Regions from separate parts of the Homo sapiens genome. Here region 2 is linked to region 1. A link means that fine-mapping ties the variant in region 1 to the expression of a gene that starts in the linked region. Tissue or cell type: whole blood. Region 1 holds a variant in brackets; the other region holds the start of a gene. All regions are shown on one strand. Distances are from middle to middle.

The links. PIP is the estimated chance that this variant, and not a neighbour inherited with it, causes the effect.
Region 2: it holds the start of OSTF1, and the variant in region 1 is fine-mapped to the expression of OSTF1 in whole blood (INTERVAL, PIP 0.95).

Annotation. Positions count from the first base shown.
Region 1 is chr9:75,129,892-75,138,094 of GRCh38, reverse strand. OSTF1 (osteoclast stimulating factor 1) reads right to left here. Exons shown (of 10, transcript NM_012383.5): 4 at 7,454-7,517; 5 at 6,272-6,325; 6 at 4,694-4,801; 7 at 3,700-3,749; 8 at 479-557. Among named protein-coding and RNA genes, the nearest start is that of OSTF1, 45 kb to the right of the region's middle. RefSeq lists an enhancer at 843-1,342. The variant G/A (reference allele first, on the strand shown) is at 4,043.
Region 2 is chr9:75,084,329-75,092,504 of GRCh38, reverse strand. It overlaps OSTF1 (osteoclast stimulating factor 1), which reads right to left and starts at 3,991. Exons shown (of 10, transcript NM_012383.5): 1 at 3,779-3,991. The coding sequence starts at 3,812. It overlaps NMRK1 (nicotinamide riboside kinase 1), which reads left to right and starts at 4,350. Exons shown (of 9, transcript NM_017881.3): 1 at 4,350-4,497. RefSeq lists silencers at 3,601-3,690, 3,881-4,480.

The sequences.
Region 1 (8,203 bases):
GGGGATCAAGATATCCTCTCTCGTTCACTTTACATCTAGCACCTGCTCAGCTCAAAGCAGGACATTGCAGCCGCATCATTCTTGCTTATCTGTCAAGACTTCCCTGTGAGAACAGGGGCCTCAGCAACTTTACCTATACAGCTTTCTCAGACAGGATCTCCCCAACACACGTGTACACATACATTCTTTGTTTCTAAGGCTCTATAATCCTGCAGAAACATACAATACAGTTCTTACTAAAAGTAATATATGTAATGTTAAAGCTTGCCATGGTTTTAGTTTATATTAAAAACTAACACAAACCAACCCCCAATAATTTTATTTTATCATAACTATTCCATGATACACAGGCAGAGCAAAGGTTAAACCCTATTTTGAAATAAGACTATTATTCTTCCTACCATTTCAAATGGCGTAAGTTGATATAGACTATTTTTCAGGGCAAGCAAAGACCAGATAAACTCAGCACAAACTTTACCTTTTGCCAGAAGCAACTGGACGATATCTGCATAACCCTTCCAGGCAGCAGCATGCAAAGCTGTATCTCCCAACTTGTTCTATAGTGATAAAAAGAGAAAGTACCATTTTTAAGATAGAGGGTGGATTGAAAGTACATGTTAATTCAGGTTTAACCCAGTTAAACCTAAAAGTTAAACCTAAAATGGGAACAAAGTTATAGAACCACATAAAATTCCAAAGAGAAAAGGAAAGGAGACTCAAGAGATGGGAGAGGAGTCATTTTTGGGAGATGGAATAGGATGGAGGAGTACAAGCTGACTTGGTGGAGCACGAGCTGAAAAGCACATGCCTGCGGAGGGAGATCCAGGAGGAAGGAAGCAGATTTGAACATGCAGAAGCCTGGCAAAAATTAGGAATTGGAGATTCCTGGAGGTGCTAGGGCAGGCATGAGGCATGGGTGGGAAAACAGAGATATTGGTTTAAAGTACTCATAAAAAGTAGAATCTCAGAACCTCTTCCCCTTCTCTTGCTGCCAGATGACCCAATAATGATGACAGATTTACTTGTTGAGAAATTAACCTGATAGTTTCCAAGTTCATGAACACTAGGTACAAGAGAAGTAGCAAAAGGCCAGAAACTCAAACCTGAGGGTTAGGTAAAAAACCTACAGACTGAACAGTAAGACCCCTCTCTCAGGTACCTTTACGTACCCCACTGCCCAGTGTGCACATACCCCCAGGCAGGAGACTGGAGGGCACTTCTCTGGTGAAGCAGTGCAGCCCCATGTGCAGGGAAGGGAAGGAGTGTCACTTTCATTAGCATTTGGGTGTCACCTAGCAAAATAGCCAGGACCTCACCACATCACCCTATGGAGAAGCCCAACCGCCAGCAGGCCTCACCAAGCACACACAGCTTCCAATCACACCTAAAAATGAATGGATAAGGGCCAGGCATGGTGGCTCACACCTGTAATCTCAGCACTTTGGGAGACCGAGGAGAGCGGATCACCTGAAGTCAGGAGTTCGAGACCAGCCTGGCTAACGTGGTGAAACCCCGTCTCTACTAAAAACACAAAAATAAGCCAGGCCAGTGGCATGGGCCTGTAGTCCCAGCTACTTGGGAGGCTGAGGCAGGAGAATAGCTTGAACCCGGGAGGCAGAGGTTGCAGTGAGCTGAGATTGCGCCACTACGCCCCAGCCTGGACAACAGAGCGAGACTCCATCTCAAATTAAAAAAATAATAATGAATGGATAATGACACCAAGTGTTCGTGGAAAGCCTACAATATTTTAGTAAAGACCAAAACAAACAAAATAAATGGATCTCAAAGGGAAAAAACACAGTACAGTGAAGAGCCAAAAAACATAGTTTGAAAAGTTATAAATATTATATCAGCAAGATATAAGATCATATTGTGTCATGAAACAAGAAAAAGATACTACGTAAAAGTAACAATCAGAGTAAAATAAGGGCTTATAACAGAATTCTAAGAATGGCCCCCAAGGTTCCTGGCCCTGGTACAGGCCCCCTCCTCTTGACTGCAAGTGAAAGCAGTGAATGTAACAGGCTATCACTCCCATAATTAGGTTTCTAGTCAGCGGATGTTGAATTCTTCAAAAGGGACATTATCCCAGGTGGGCCTGACCTAACCAGGTGGGCCCCTAAAAAATAAAAACAATGAAACAGCAGAGAGACAATCTCCTTCTGGCCTTGAGGAAGAAAGCAAACAGCCATACTGTGAGCTGTCTACAGAGAGGGGTGGCCTCTAAAAGCTGAGGGCCTCAGTAATACTACAGTTAGAAGAAAATCAATTCTTCCTACAACCTAAATGCACTTGGAAGAAGACCCCAAGCTCCAGATGAGAATCCAGCTCCAGCCAATCCCTTGATTTCCACCTGGGAGACCCTGAGCAGAGAACGCAGCTATGCCATGCCCAGAATTCTGACGTACAGAAAGTATAAGCTGCTAAGCCTGTGGTCGTTTGCTAGGCAGCAATAGAAAACTAATACAGAACTCTGGGGAATTAAAAAGATAACCAAAATAAAACAAAGGTGAGAATATCTCTGGGAAAAATTAAGAAAACTGAAGGTTCAATCCAAGAAGTCCAACATCCTACTAATGGGCATTCCAGAACCAAAAGAACAAAGAAGGGTCAGATAAAAATTCTAAAAGAAATACAAGATAATTTTCCAGGCTGAAAGAGTTCATCATAATCATTGGGAAGAGATGAATGCTAGCACATCATCATAAAATTTGAAAACACCAACAATAAAGTAAATACTCTTAGCAAGAGAAAAAGCAGATCATACATAAAAGAATGGGAATCAAAATGGCACCAAATCTCTCAAAAGCAACCCTGGAAACAAGAATGCCACAGAGCCATGCCTTCAAAATTCTAAGGGAAACTGTTTTTGACCTAGAATTCTGATCAGCCATATAATCAATCCCAAGCTTCTCTTTCTCAGGAATCTACTTGAAGATGTTCTCTGACAAAAGAAAGACAAGGGATCCAGAAAAATGAAGATGCAACATGGCAGAGAACGGAAGGGGTTCCCTGGAGGACAGCAAAGGGCCACAGGGACCAAGCTGCTCAGACTGGAGAATGATGGAGAGCTTCAGGAAGTAATGAATCCAGGGAGAAAAAAGAAAGCTGTTGATTATCTTACACATTTTGGAAAAGTATTATATATCAAGACTGTATAAAACAGTAGAGAAGTCACAGTGAGATAACAAAAAATGAGTTTTAAAAAGTAAGTACAGAAACAAAAAAAGGTTATATAAGCAGTGAACACTATTTAGACACCCATAATAAAGTAAATATTATATAGTAATATAACCAAAAACTGTGATGAAGTACACTGAGGAGCAGAGGAGAACAGGCTTGGTGCTGGGGTGCTGAAAGATGAGAGCTGGGGCAGCTGACAAGCTTAACCCTTCACATACCCAACAGGAGGCCAAAGTACACATGAAGACAATGCATGGCGAGATAGCTCCGTCAGCCTATTCCTTAGTAACACAAAGGTAAGTACAGGAAGAAAGAGCTAAAAGCTGAAAGTGACATATGAGGAGGAGTGGGTTTGGCACTTGGGGCTGTGGATAATTTGAATTTTAGTACAATTATAATTTTTAAATTATGTGCTTGTGGGATTTTGACTACAATACTTCACATGCCCATGAGTTGCTCTGTACTAAAGACAACAAGCAGGTATGTGTTAAATAATTTTCAAATAAGCAGTCTTACCTGCTGGTTCAGTTCAATATTTGGTTGAGTAAATAGCATTTCCACTATATCTGAAATTCAAAGAGAAAAGATACCTTTTAAGAACGAAAATTAGAAGCCTGACAAATCTAGGTACAATAATTTTATAAAAGAGAGATTCTTCAGAAGAACCTTCAAGAAAATGTTAACACATTTTGTAAAATTTATAAAATAGAAAAACTTAAGAATCTAAAAAGTGGAATTATTTAGGAAAATATACTTTTTCTAATAGTTTTGGCTTTTGCATTTTCATATGACACTTAGAGGAATATTTTTACATTCACTATAATACTTTTCATTCATATAACTAACATGTTTATTAGCT[G/A]AAATAAGATAGGCTTCTTTTTAGTAGACAGTTACAAATTTTCCTTTGGCACTGCTATTTAATTTGTTGAGATCTTCATTTCTTATTGTTGTTGAGTTTATTTCTTTTGTTATAGAGAGAGGTAGAAAAGCGGTGGGTGATAAATTTTTGTCCAGGAAGAAATACATCTAAAAATTCAATTTGTCATTATTATTGATTACAACAGAAAAAGTATCAATGGAATCACTAACTTTGGCAAATGTTGGCTTTCTCTTGAATCTAATAGTTTGCATTAAACTTAAAATGCAAATCATAAAAGAAGACCTTGTGAAAAGCTAAGCTAGAGGAGCAAATTCTGATCTTTCCTTCTGTAAGATTAGACAGTGGTTTTGTTTTTATATTACTGCTGTTTTCCAGTAACCTTTCTAAGCCTGAGAGAGGAAAGGAAGTGTCCAGTCTTTCAAGCGAGAGGGACCCATGCAGTGAGGCTGACTGACCACATTCTACCCACTGTTCTACAGAGCTTCCAGGAACAAGGGTTTTGGCCGGTATTCTAAAGGATTCAAAAAGAATAGCCAATGCTTTTCCTTTCTCATTTTTTGTAAATCTGGCTCCCGTAGGTGAAACACATTTTCAGCAGCATAGAAACATATAACAAACAAAATGTAATACCTTTGTGGCCCCCGTGGCAAGCCCAGTATAAGGCAGTGCTTCCAGCTTTGTCTAAGCCATTAACACCCACTCTGTTGTCCAAACACTCTCTCAACCAGCTCAAGTTGCCTGAAAGAATTTTACATTTACAAGAACACAAGAAAAAAAGCTTTCACTTTTTATTTTGCTTTTAAATCAATGTCATTCTGCATAAATTTCCATTTGCAATGGATTAATCAGCAAGTATTAAATTAAGACCTCCCCATTAATGCATTTATTATGGTACATTTTGACTTCCAGCTTATTAATGGAAAGTATTAACATCAATGTTTCTAATGATAAGTTAATGGGAATAGTTGCCCAAATGGGTATACTTAAGGTATTTCTATTCTGTTAAAAAATATATAGGGGTGTGTGTGTGTGTGTGTGTGTGTGTGTGTGTGTGTGTGTATGTGTGTGTATGTGTATATATTATTTTTTTCTTTGTGAAATTCTGGAAATTGAGGAAAAAACAATCAAACCTAAGAACAAGCAGATACTATTCATATTCATATTTAAAATGCATCTTCAGTTCCTATAAGAAAGGCTAAATAACCTACTCAAAGCTGCTGCTCTTATATGCTAAACTATAACTATTAATTTAAAATCCTCAGGCTAATGTCCCAAGTATCTAATTCACAAAGAATTTTTTAAATGTCAGTTTAGTCCTTTTACTTTTTCACAATCCTAACCAATAATTTCCTTGTGTACATTCAGATTTCCAAAAAAATCTAAAAATGGAATGAAATGGAGCTCATTGAGGCTTTACAAAAACTCCCCATTATCTACAGCAGGGTTTCTCAGCAGCAGCCCCATTGGCATTTGGGGTTGGATTTATTGTGGGGGTGCTCCTGTGTGCTGTAGGATGTGTGGCAACAACGCCTGCCTCTCCCCAAAAGATGCCAGTAACATCCCTCCAGTCATGACAGTCAACATGTCTCCAGATATTGCCAAATACCCTCGGGGTTTGTGAAAGAGGAATCACCCCTAGCTGAGGACTACTGATCTACAGAATAAAGCCCAAGACAAGGCTGATCGTTGTTTGGTCAAGGATCTTCCCCAGGTTCATCCCTGTTAGTCATGCCCTCCCTGGCCAAATGCTCACCACACCAACGCTCTCCTAAATGCTGTACCCACCAGACCCTTCCATTCTCTTGCCCTCCAGTTACTCACCTGGGCCTCTACGGCCTGTCAAACACATTTCAATTGCTGTACTTATCATACCATATTTTAATGATCTGTTACATCTCTCTCTCCCCTGCCAGATGTTGTGCTTTGGAAGTCACAGACCATGTCTTTCGACTTGCATCTCCCCACAACAGTGTTTCTTGACTGACATTTTAAAACTAAAATCACACTTCTCTAGGGTAGTAGATGTTGGGACAGACTGTAAGGCAGGGATTTAACTGAGAAGGTGCAAAGGGAACTTTCTAGGATGGCAGAAATGTTCTAGATCTTGATCTGGGTGTTGGTTACGTGGGTGTATGCACTTGTCAAAGCTAATTGAAATCCGTGCCTTTTACTGTACTGCATACCTCAGTCAAAAAGAATCACACCTACCTCTTTTTGCTGCTTCATGCAATGGATTGTCAATGGATTCTGCCTGCTCAGCCACTAGATTGAAAATAAAAAGTGTTAACCCAATGTGGAATTGCCACACAAATGATTTACTGAAGCCACTCATTCACCACAGTCCCCCAGCTTCAGGAGTACCAGGGCATTCAACACAGTTTCCTTTACTTAATGTGGATAAAAAGTAACAGAAAATCAAATGGATAGTTCTTGCATTAAATGAAGCTGAATTATGTGTTTAGGGAAACCAAGCCAAGCAATAAGGCAATAACATAGTAATTAACTGGAAGTATAAACAAAAACAAACAAACCCGCATACCTGAGTTAAATGCACACTTGATATTACTCAAGTATTTAATAAACAAAGTCACAAAAATGCAAAAGGAAGCATTTGATGTTCATTTTTACATTTTGTAGATCACTCTGCTTTAAAGATACCTGAAAATAATTTTGGTTCTCTTGTGTGTATTTATGTAGGATCGGATGAGGGGAGTATTTTGCTTCCTGTATTCAGAAAGAACAATCAGCATAGCTACCTGCCTCTTAAAGAAGGCATGTTCGCTGCTGTCCTAGAATCAGTAGGAAGTGTTATTAGGAAATGGAAGAAAGAGGATTAAAACTCAGGAGCCTTGTTTATCAATTCTGTGCTCTTTTGACTTGATTCTGCTGACAACTAAACAAGTGTTTTATCTGTTTGTCCCACTTCCAGCTTGAAGCAGCTTCATGGCGGGAGCCGTGTCTCTCATCTCTCAAAGTCTCCAAACTGCCATGATAAGCATTTAATGAACATCACTGCCCCAAACATGAATGAACAAGGCCGGGTTACTCCATCACAAAAGAAACGGCTAGTCTAAGAAACTATCTGCAAGATTGAGTTTATCAGCATTAAAAAAAATTGTTTTAAGGGTTGAAGAAAGTAAAACCATAAGTGTTTCCTTGGAAACCTTGGGTTAAGAATGCTAAAATGCATTCTCTTAGGCCACAGAGTCAGGCTCAAGCACATCTGGTGTTCATGGCCAGTTTATTAACAGAAGGCTCATGGAATAGAAAATGTCCTAGACTGACAATGACTCCATTGCTTTCTCAGCCACAGTAGCAAGCAGAAAAGCATCAAGAACCAAAAAATTCCAAGTGAACGAAGCTAAAGTAAAACCACTCAGCAACACTTACCATAGTTGCTTGGAATTAGTCCAGTCCTGCCTTTGGAGGTGCCTTTCCACCAATTGGTATCGCTCTGGTAAAAGAAGAGTTAAATTAAGTGGTATGAAATCCAGACTGCATTCATTCACTTTTCAAATTATCTAGCTCCTAGGGAGTACCTGTTCTACAAAATGTCCATCAACCCTACCCACACTATCAAGCTTCCTCACGCCCTAGCTGTGGGTGTCCGTCTCCCTTACCACTCAGTTACAAATAAACACGCATCTGCCTGCAACAAATGGAATACGTTTCATGACAGAGTCTCAACAACCAAACAAATAAGAGATGACATGAAACAGAAGAAAACAAATTACGCTAGTTTAGACTAGCTATATGATTTTTTGTCCACAGTTTCATTTCTCTTAGCTTTGAGATAATTTTTTTTATGGGGGAGGAAGTTCTAAAGATCTCTTTATATTATCTTCATTTTGGGGGTAACTTGTTATTATAGAAAAATTTAAACTTACAAAAAAGTAGAAAGAACAATGTAATGACCATATATATACCCATTTCCCAACTGCACAAATCATTTATTAATGACCAATATTGTTTCATATATGCCCCCATGACGTCCCTCCCCTCCTGGATTATTTTAAAATAAATTCTAGACATCATATTATTTCATTTGTAAATATTTCAGTACGTATCTCTGAAAGACACATACTTTTTGAAAGGCAATTATAATGCCATTATCACAGCTTAAAAGTTTTTTCCAACAAT
Region 2 (8,176 bases), 46 kb after region 1:
ATGGGATACTCTAGGTAATATCTGTAGATACATACGTCTTCCCCATTAGACTCAGGACCCTCGTGAATGACACCATAGATTATTGTTCCTGGGAACCCCAGTGTCTAGCACAGGGCCTAATATATGAGCTACATTTATTAAGAAACATTTGTTTAGCAAATGAATTCTGGATATGGCCAAAAACCCAAACAAGGTAACCCTGATCTATCCTCCAGATGGTACAAAAATGGCCAGGGTCTCCCACTAGCATCTGCCCGGGACTTCCCTGGGCAGCCTCCTTCCACAAATCGGCCCCCTGTTGGGGATGTGCTGATCAGCCAGAAAGATGCTATTAGCCTGCATTATAGCTTAATGTCCCTTGTTTTTAATATCTTCCAGCAAGTCCTTTGTCCTTACTCACCTAGCTCCTTTCCTTTTAGTATTGTCTACTGAATTGAGCCATGCTGTTTTGCCCAAATCTTGCTCTGAAAGAAGCTGTAAGAAACATGGCTAGGATGTTCTGTCTTGTATTTCTGCTAGAGATATCCAGGCCACTCCAATACTTTAAGAGAACCCACAGGAAAATCTGTCTCAGATCTCAATGCCATTAAAATAACTACTTTTCAGAGTAAGTGACACATTTTAATTTTATGAGCACTATGAATCTTGAGATTTTTCTCTCTGCTTGCAGCTGAGAGCCAAATCTACAGTGACCTTACTACACATGCAGGTCTGTCTGTAAGCTAGCTTTTCCTCTTGTTTCATCTTACTATTCTTCCCTTCCTCTAGATGACCATGCTTTATCTTTACTTTTTCCTCTCTCTCAGATCATGTGTATTTTTAGAAGTCCTTTTGGAATGAGGCAAGGTTTAAACAAACCAAAAAATTAAATACAACCCCAAAGCCCCCAATCCCATGCTGTCTTTGGAGATTTTTATCCATGCAGCTTGCCTGCAGGACAAGAAAGTAAAGCTCCACACCACTCTCCTTGCTGTCAACCAGGGGCTGACCTTTATGTGCATTTGTGACAAGAAAGTCTGTAGACCAGAGGCCCCTCCCTTTCGACTTCCTGACCACCAGCTCTAAAATACACATTTGACCGCCAGTGTGAATGGAGCACTATGACTTAAGGCAGAATAGCAAATGGTTAAGAGTGCAGACTTTGGCCAGGCACAGTGATCCCACACTTTGGGAAGCGAAGGAGGGTGGATCACAAGGTCAGGAGTTCAAGACCAGCCTGGATCCTGTCTCTACTAAAAATACAAAAAAAAAATTAGCCGGGCATGGTGGCGGGCTGCCTGTAATCCCAGCTGCTCGGGAGGCTGAGGCAGAGAATTGCTTGATCCCGAGAGGCGGAGGTTGCAGTGAGCCGAGATCGCGCCACTGCACTCCAGCCTGGGCAACAGAGCGAGAGTCTGTCTCAAAAAAAAAAAAAAAAAAAAAAGTGCAGACTTCAAAGCCAGACTACCTGGGTTTTAATACTGCCTGCTACATCCCCCACTCTAACTGTTGACTTTAGACAAGTTAAATAACATTTCTGCGCATCTTTATTTCCCCATCTGTGCAACAGGAACAATATAATGGTACTGATCTCATAAGATTGTTGAGAGCAGCAAATGTGTTAACACGTGTAAAGTGACTATACCATTGCCTAACACACAGTAAATGTGGGACAGTACTACGATAGGACATTTCTGTTTTTGTTTTTTGTACTCTGTTGAGACGGGGTCTTGCTATGTTGCCCAGGCTAGTCTCAAACTCCTAGCCTCAAGCAATCCTCCCACCTCAGCCTCATAAAGTGCTAGGATTACAGGCATGGCCCACTGCTCCTGGCCATCGCTTTTTTTTTTTCTTCAACTAAGCTAGCCCACACAAAGTTTCAACTCTGATTGGCAGTAATGTTTCTCACTGTAAATTACTAAACTGGCAAACCCATTTCTATGGTAACTTTGTGTCTGGATCTCATTTGTAAATTAATGTTGATTCAAAATTCCCTTTATCCTGAATCAAGGACCAGATAAAACAAATTAAAATAAAATAAAATGCAAAGTTCCCTCTAAACACCTGTCATGTTTAACCATAAGCTTTCTGATGTGAAGGAGAAAGGAGGTTCCTGGGAATGTATCCACAATTAGTAACAGGATGACCCTTAAACCCCCAAGTGTGAATGAACCCACATGTATACATTACTGTGTACACACACACACACACACACACACACACACACACACCTGTCAATGTCCCTCCATTTGCAATATAGACAGCATTTAATACGCATGAAGAGATTTTTAAAAAGGGCATTCTTTAACGTATTTCAACTGGCAGCAGGTGATCAGAAAAAAATAAGATAAATAAAATATTGTTTAGCTATCAAAGAACAACTCTGCACTGTTAGATACTTAAGGTCCTGATTTGCACCTGAGTTTAGAAAGCTACCTCATACATATGCACTTAAAATGGAAATTTCTCATCAGATTCCACATCTAATGCAATGCAGAACCCAACTCTAGCTGTGCCCCATCTTTGCCCAGGGCAGAGCCAGTCTCAGCAACTTCCTTCACACTCAGCCCACCAAGATGTCAGTCCTCAGTGAAGCACTATTCCACATACGTACGTACATGATTATCAAATAAAGGGACTTCATACTCCAACTGCAGGAACGCAAAGAAACAAAACTAGATAAGTATGAAAGCTATAGAGTTTAGGAAAATCAAGGAAAAAAGTAATCACTGAAACTCATCTCTTGCAAAGAAAGTTACTTCAAAATTTGACGTAAATGGATTAAATTTCAGCATTTCGCTATACCGAAATTACACTATGGGAAGAAAAAACCCAAGAATACATCGGAGCCATTTATCTTCCATTTCCTGTATTTCCCTTAATTACCTACCCAAATGAATGCACGTAAGAGTTGTTAAAGTATTGAAATACGTCAGTCCTTTCTAATTACCTACCCAAATGAATGAGCGGAACAGTATGTTACAACTTTTAATTAAAATACGTCAGTTTCTTTTACAATTATCTTATTTCTGCATATCACAGAAAATATTCTAAGAACAGAGCAAAAATGAACAAGGACAATCCGCCCAGAAAACTGCTTTGAGGAATTTAGTAATCTCAGCCCTCTCAGGTTTAGCACGCCAACGTCTTTGGGAGAGCAAAGGCAAAGGAGATGATAAAATGACACTTCCAAATAGCAACAGCTGAGATCACTGCCGCATCCTAGATTCTTTCCACCAGGAGCGCGAGTATAGGGTTTTTTTCTAAACGCTCTTCCCAAGATCCCGAGGTCAATTTCAAACGCTGCTCCACGCTTAAGTCCCGAGGGAGGCTCGCTCGCCCACCCCACCCTGCAGGGATTGCACTTCCCGTTCGCTCTGGCCGGTCAGGAACCCTAACTTGACAGTGACAAACACTGAGAAAAGAGGAAGTGGCTAAAGATCATTTCATGACATTTTTTAAAGGGAGATCAATGGCCCTGTCTTTCCGGAAAACTTCCATGGGACGTTGCCATCACACCCTCTGAAAGTTTCAGCGAATGACAACGTAGCAAAAGTGAGGGCTACTCCCCTTTAAATATATATATATATATTAATCCTCGAAATCCTCTTGCTATCAAAATCGATCCCTCCTCCGTAACAGCGAACGCAAAACTAAGAGCGCCCATCCCGGTGGGGCCGATCTCGGAAGCCAGGCTCGGGGCCGGGTGCGCGCCGGGTCCTCCCTGCCAAGCTGCAGAGGAGGCGCCGGCACCGCGGCGGTCGCAGGACCTGGCAAGCGCCTACCTTACCTCCCTCACCTGGTTTGACTGGTTTGGGTGGCGGCTTCGACATCTCGCTTCCTGGAGCTGCAAATCCTAAAGACCCCGCCGAAAAGCCCACCGCTTGCCCGCCACCTGGCACTCCGGGCACCCCAGTTCTTTTTGTCTGGCTTACAACCGTGCGCCTCCTAGGACCGGCGCCCACCCTTGGCTGCGGGAAGAGCGGACGCAGGCAGAGCGGCTCCGCCGAGTGCTCCGCCCCGCCCCGCGGCCGCCGGAGCAGTCCAGAGCGCGCGCCGGGCCGACGAGGAAGTGGACCCCGCCTAGCCGAGCGCTAATTGGCTCCCGGGCTGGCAGCTTCGCCGCAGCAGGAGCGCGGGCGGCGCGCACGGCGGCGGAACCAGCCGGAGCCGAGCGAGGGCGAAGCGGGCGTGCGCCAGTGCAGTGCCGCGGGCCGCGCGCGCTCCCGATAGGGAAGGGCCGGAGCTGCGCAGGGGCGCGCGGAAGAGGCCAAGCTAGCCGGAGCCCCGCCCCGCCCCGCCCCGCCCCAACGGGGGCTGGAACCCGGCGCCGAGAGTAGAGAAAAGGGGCCTCTGGTGACCGCCCCTACCTGGCATCCCTCTAACCCAGGAGGAGCGTGGGGAAAGGGGCTGTGGGCCTCTCGGGGAGCGAGCTGCGGGTAGCGGCGCACTGGGTACAGGCGCGCGCTTGGCTGTCGCCTCTGCCGCTGTGTTTGGGAGGACTCGAACTGGCGCCAGGTGAGTGCGTACCTGCTCGCCCCTGCCGCGCCGCGCCGCCTTGCTGGGGCCTGGAGGTGTTTCCAGAGGGTTTCTGTGCTGGAGCCCGGGACTTGGTTGCGCCCTGAAAGCCTTGCCTGGACTCTTGCCACCCTCACAGAGCTGATAGGTGGCCTGCCGAGGAGGACGTGTACTCATGGTGGCGTGGTGCTCTAGCGCCCCGGAATAATCCTGAAAATGGGAACGCTGCCTCCAAGAGACCGCGCAGCCTGGAGAAGTCGCCAGGGACAGGATCAGGACTTGATCCTCGCGGATCGATATGGTCTCATTCCTCTAGCGTTGGGGTGATGACCTACTGCCCGCCTGCTGCCTGTTACTGTAAGGCCTGCTAAGAATTTTTTTTTTTTTTACTTTTTTTAATGACTGAAAAGAAATAAAAAGAAATATAATACTTTGTGACACGTGAAAATTACATGAAATTACGATTTCAGTGTCCGTAAAATTTTACTGGAACACGGTCACGCTCATTTGCATCTGTGTTTTCTGTGGCCGCTTTCGCATTACCCAGCAGGGTTGAGTAGCAGCTGGCAAAGCCCAAAGCATTTCCTGTCTGGCACTTTACAGAAAAAGTTTTCCTACCCCTGATCTATCGGATTGAATCTTCGGTGGGAGGAAAGAACTGGAGCACACAAGGAAGCCAATGGCATAAGTTCAAAATAACAGTCAATATTGTAAATTAATTGTATATTTGGGGAAAGAAAAAACTGTTTACCTAAGAACCTACATAAATGAAACCAATGGGGGAGGGGCATGAATTGCGTTTTCAAAAACCCCAGCCCTTCACGTCTGTAATCCCAGCACTTTGGGAGGGCAAGGCGGGTGGATCACGAGGTCAAGAGATCAAGACCATCTTGGCCAACCTGGTGAAACCCGATCTCTACTAAAACTGCAAAAAATTAGCCGGGCGTGGTGGCAGACGCCTGTAGTCCCAGCTACTCGGGAGGCTGGGGCAGGAGAATCACTTGAACCCAGAAGGCGGAGGTTGCAGTAAGCCGAGATTGCGCCACTGCACTCCAGCCTGGCAACAGAGCGAGACTCTGTCTTAAAAAAAAAAAAAAAACCCAGCCTTGAGGGATTTGTTTACCAAAAGGGAGCAAAGTTTAAACAATAGTAGGAAAAGACTGCCCTATCTCCTGGAAGAAGAGAATCAAAATAGCTGTTGGATAGAATACAGAGTAAGAAGTCCTGGAAACATTTTTCTCTTTTTAAAATATCAGACTGTCCTGTAGATACATTTGAAGAGCACATTTAGCTTTGTCAGCTGTCTTTCAGATCATTTGCGTTAGAGAGCTGCGTTAGAGAGTTCGTACAATCTGCTGATTCTGCACATGCCACTTCTGACCATTCTGCAGTTTAGAATCCAAAAGGCAAGTGTTTAGTAGTGAAATGAATTAAGCATAATAAACACACCTGAATTATTTTAAAAAACCCAACATTTTACTTAGGGTTAAAAAAAAGTGTAAAAAATAAAATTAGTCATTTCAGGTTTGCTCTTGGCTATCCTAGTTTGTTCTCCTGCTATGCAAAAGCTCTCCGCTGTTGAGGAAAGCCTTGCACGCACTGGGAAAATAAACTACACAGATATTCCATGAGATTGAAGGTGGTGTGGATTCTAGTGATAGACGTGCCCTGAAATGATGACTCTTTGGACACATCACATGATTTACAGTTTGTACGAAGCTTGCATTTGCTTCATGAAGCCTGGCAACTCAATTGCGAGCTTTTTAAATTTGATTTTTTGTTTTGTTTTTGGTTTTATGGGAGGCAGTTTTTGGGTTGTTTTTTGCCTGTTTGTTTTGGTTTTTTTCAAGATAGGGTCTCGCTGTGTCACCAAGGCTGCAATGCAGTGGCACAGTCATGGCTCACTGCAGCCTTGGTGATTTTTTTTATAGGGGCAACAGGCAATGAAATAGTAGAATGTGATGTGGAGGTGGACAGTGCCAGGCCTGAACTTGGAGCTCCCCTAAAGCTGCCCTGTGCATCCACACTGTTTTTGAAATAAATGCCTTCAGGGATTGCTAGGCCCACCCCCCACCCCGCCCTAGTCACTTAGCCCAGTTGCCTCTCTTGTCTCTGCATGTTCCAGTTACCCACCCTTCCCATCACATTGTCACTTGCTCATAGCTGATAGGGTATGCCCAGCATTTACCCAAACACTGGCTTGGACAGGCCCAGACTGCTAACTAATGTAGAACTGGGAGTTCCTGTTTTGGTTAAAAAAAAAAAAAAAAAAAAAAAAAAACTTACATTTGACTGTATCTGAGAGATTTTATAAGTAGGTTTTTTATGCCATCTTACTCCTGGTTCCTGAATGCAAGTAACCCCCTCAAGCCTATTTCCCATGCCACAACCATGCTCACTTGTTATTTACATGCCATGTAATTGATGCAATGGTCACACGTGTAACCACAGATGTGGCAGTTTAGGACGGGGACCAGTAGTCCTTTCCATTCTGTGTGCACAGCAAATAGATGCCCCATCAATAATACATCAGTAAGAATGACATCAATTATACATCAGAGCCTGACAATTAAGCTAGCACATACCTAACACCCTTTCTTTGCTGTTAGTAATAAAGTGCTTTTTAGCAGCTTGGAGTGATAGAAAGAAGTCAGCTCAATTGGTTTAGTTTAATATCTGGCTTTTCCACTTACTGTCTGTGTGACCTTAGGCAAATTGCTCTATTGTCTGAGCCAGTTTCCACTTATGCAAAATGAAGGGGTAGACCAAGTAATCGCTAAAGCTATACTTCTCCAAGTTTGAGAATTTATGCTTCAGCGAGCTATCCAAAAATAATGGGGGCAAGGAATGACAAGGTTTTATGAATTTTTATTTTATTTGGTAAAGTGAGGATATCACTCTACTAACATCTTCTGACAACATAGTTTTGTAAGAGAAAGAACATTTATCACCACAAAAGTGAGATAAAGAGCAGCCTCTCCCTTCCCAAAAAAAGGCTAATTGGCAGCATTGAACCGACATACCAAAAAAATAAGAATAGGGTAAAATAAAATTCAAAAGCAGAAAAATTACAACATAAAAATGTATTTTACAATATTCATTGTATGCAGTCATTCCCTCGATACATCTTGTAAATTTGGATGGAGATGTGTATTCAACAACATAACTCTGGATGAAACTTAAATATGCAACTTGTCTGCTATTTTATTTTATTTTTTAAGACAGGGCCTCACTCTGCCACCCAGGCTGGAGTGCAGCGGCTCAATCTCCACTCACTGCTACCCCCACCTTGTAGGCTCAAGCAATCCTCCCACCTCAGCCTCCGAAGTAGCTGGGACTACAGGAGCATGCCACCATGCCTGGATAATCTTTTGTATTTTTGGTAGAGGTAGCGTTTTGCCATGTTGCCCAGGCTGGTCTCAACCTCCTGAGCTCAAGCAATCCGCCTGCCTTGGCCTCCCAAAGTGCTGGGATTATAGGCATGAGCCACAGTGCCCTGCTGCTATTTTATCACAGTCATTATTGATTCTTGTCTCACATAGACTTGTTAATGGAAGTGGACCCCAGTCTTAAGCAATTGTACTCAATGTGGGATATTTAGATAAGCCAAGAAGTCAGACAACAATAGCCCTCTTCCCACCAGGCTTTTTTCTGCATAACCCCTCCCCAGGGAGAGTGT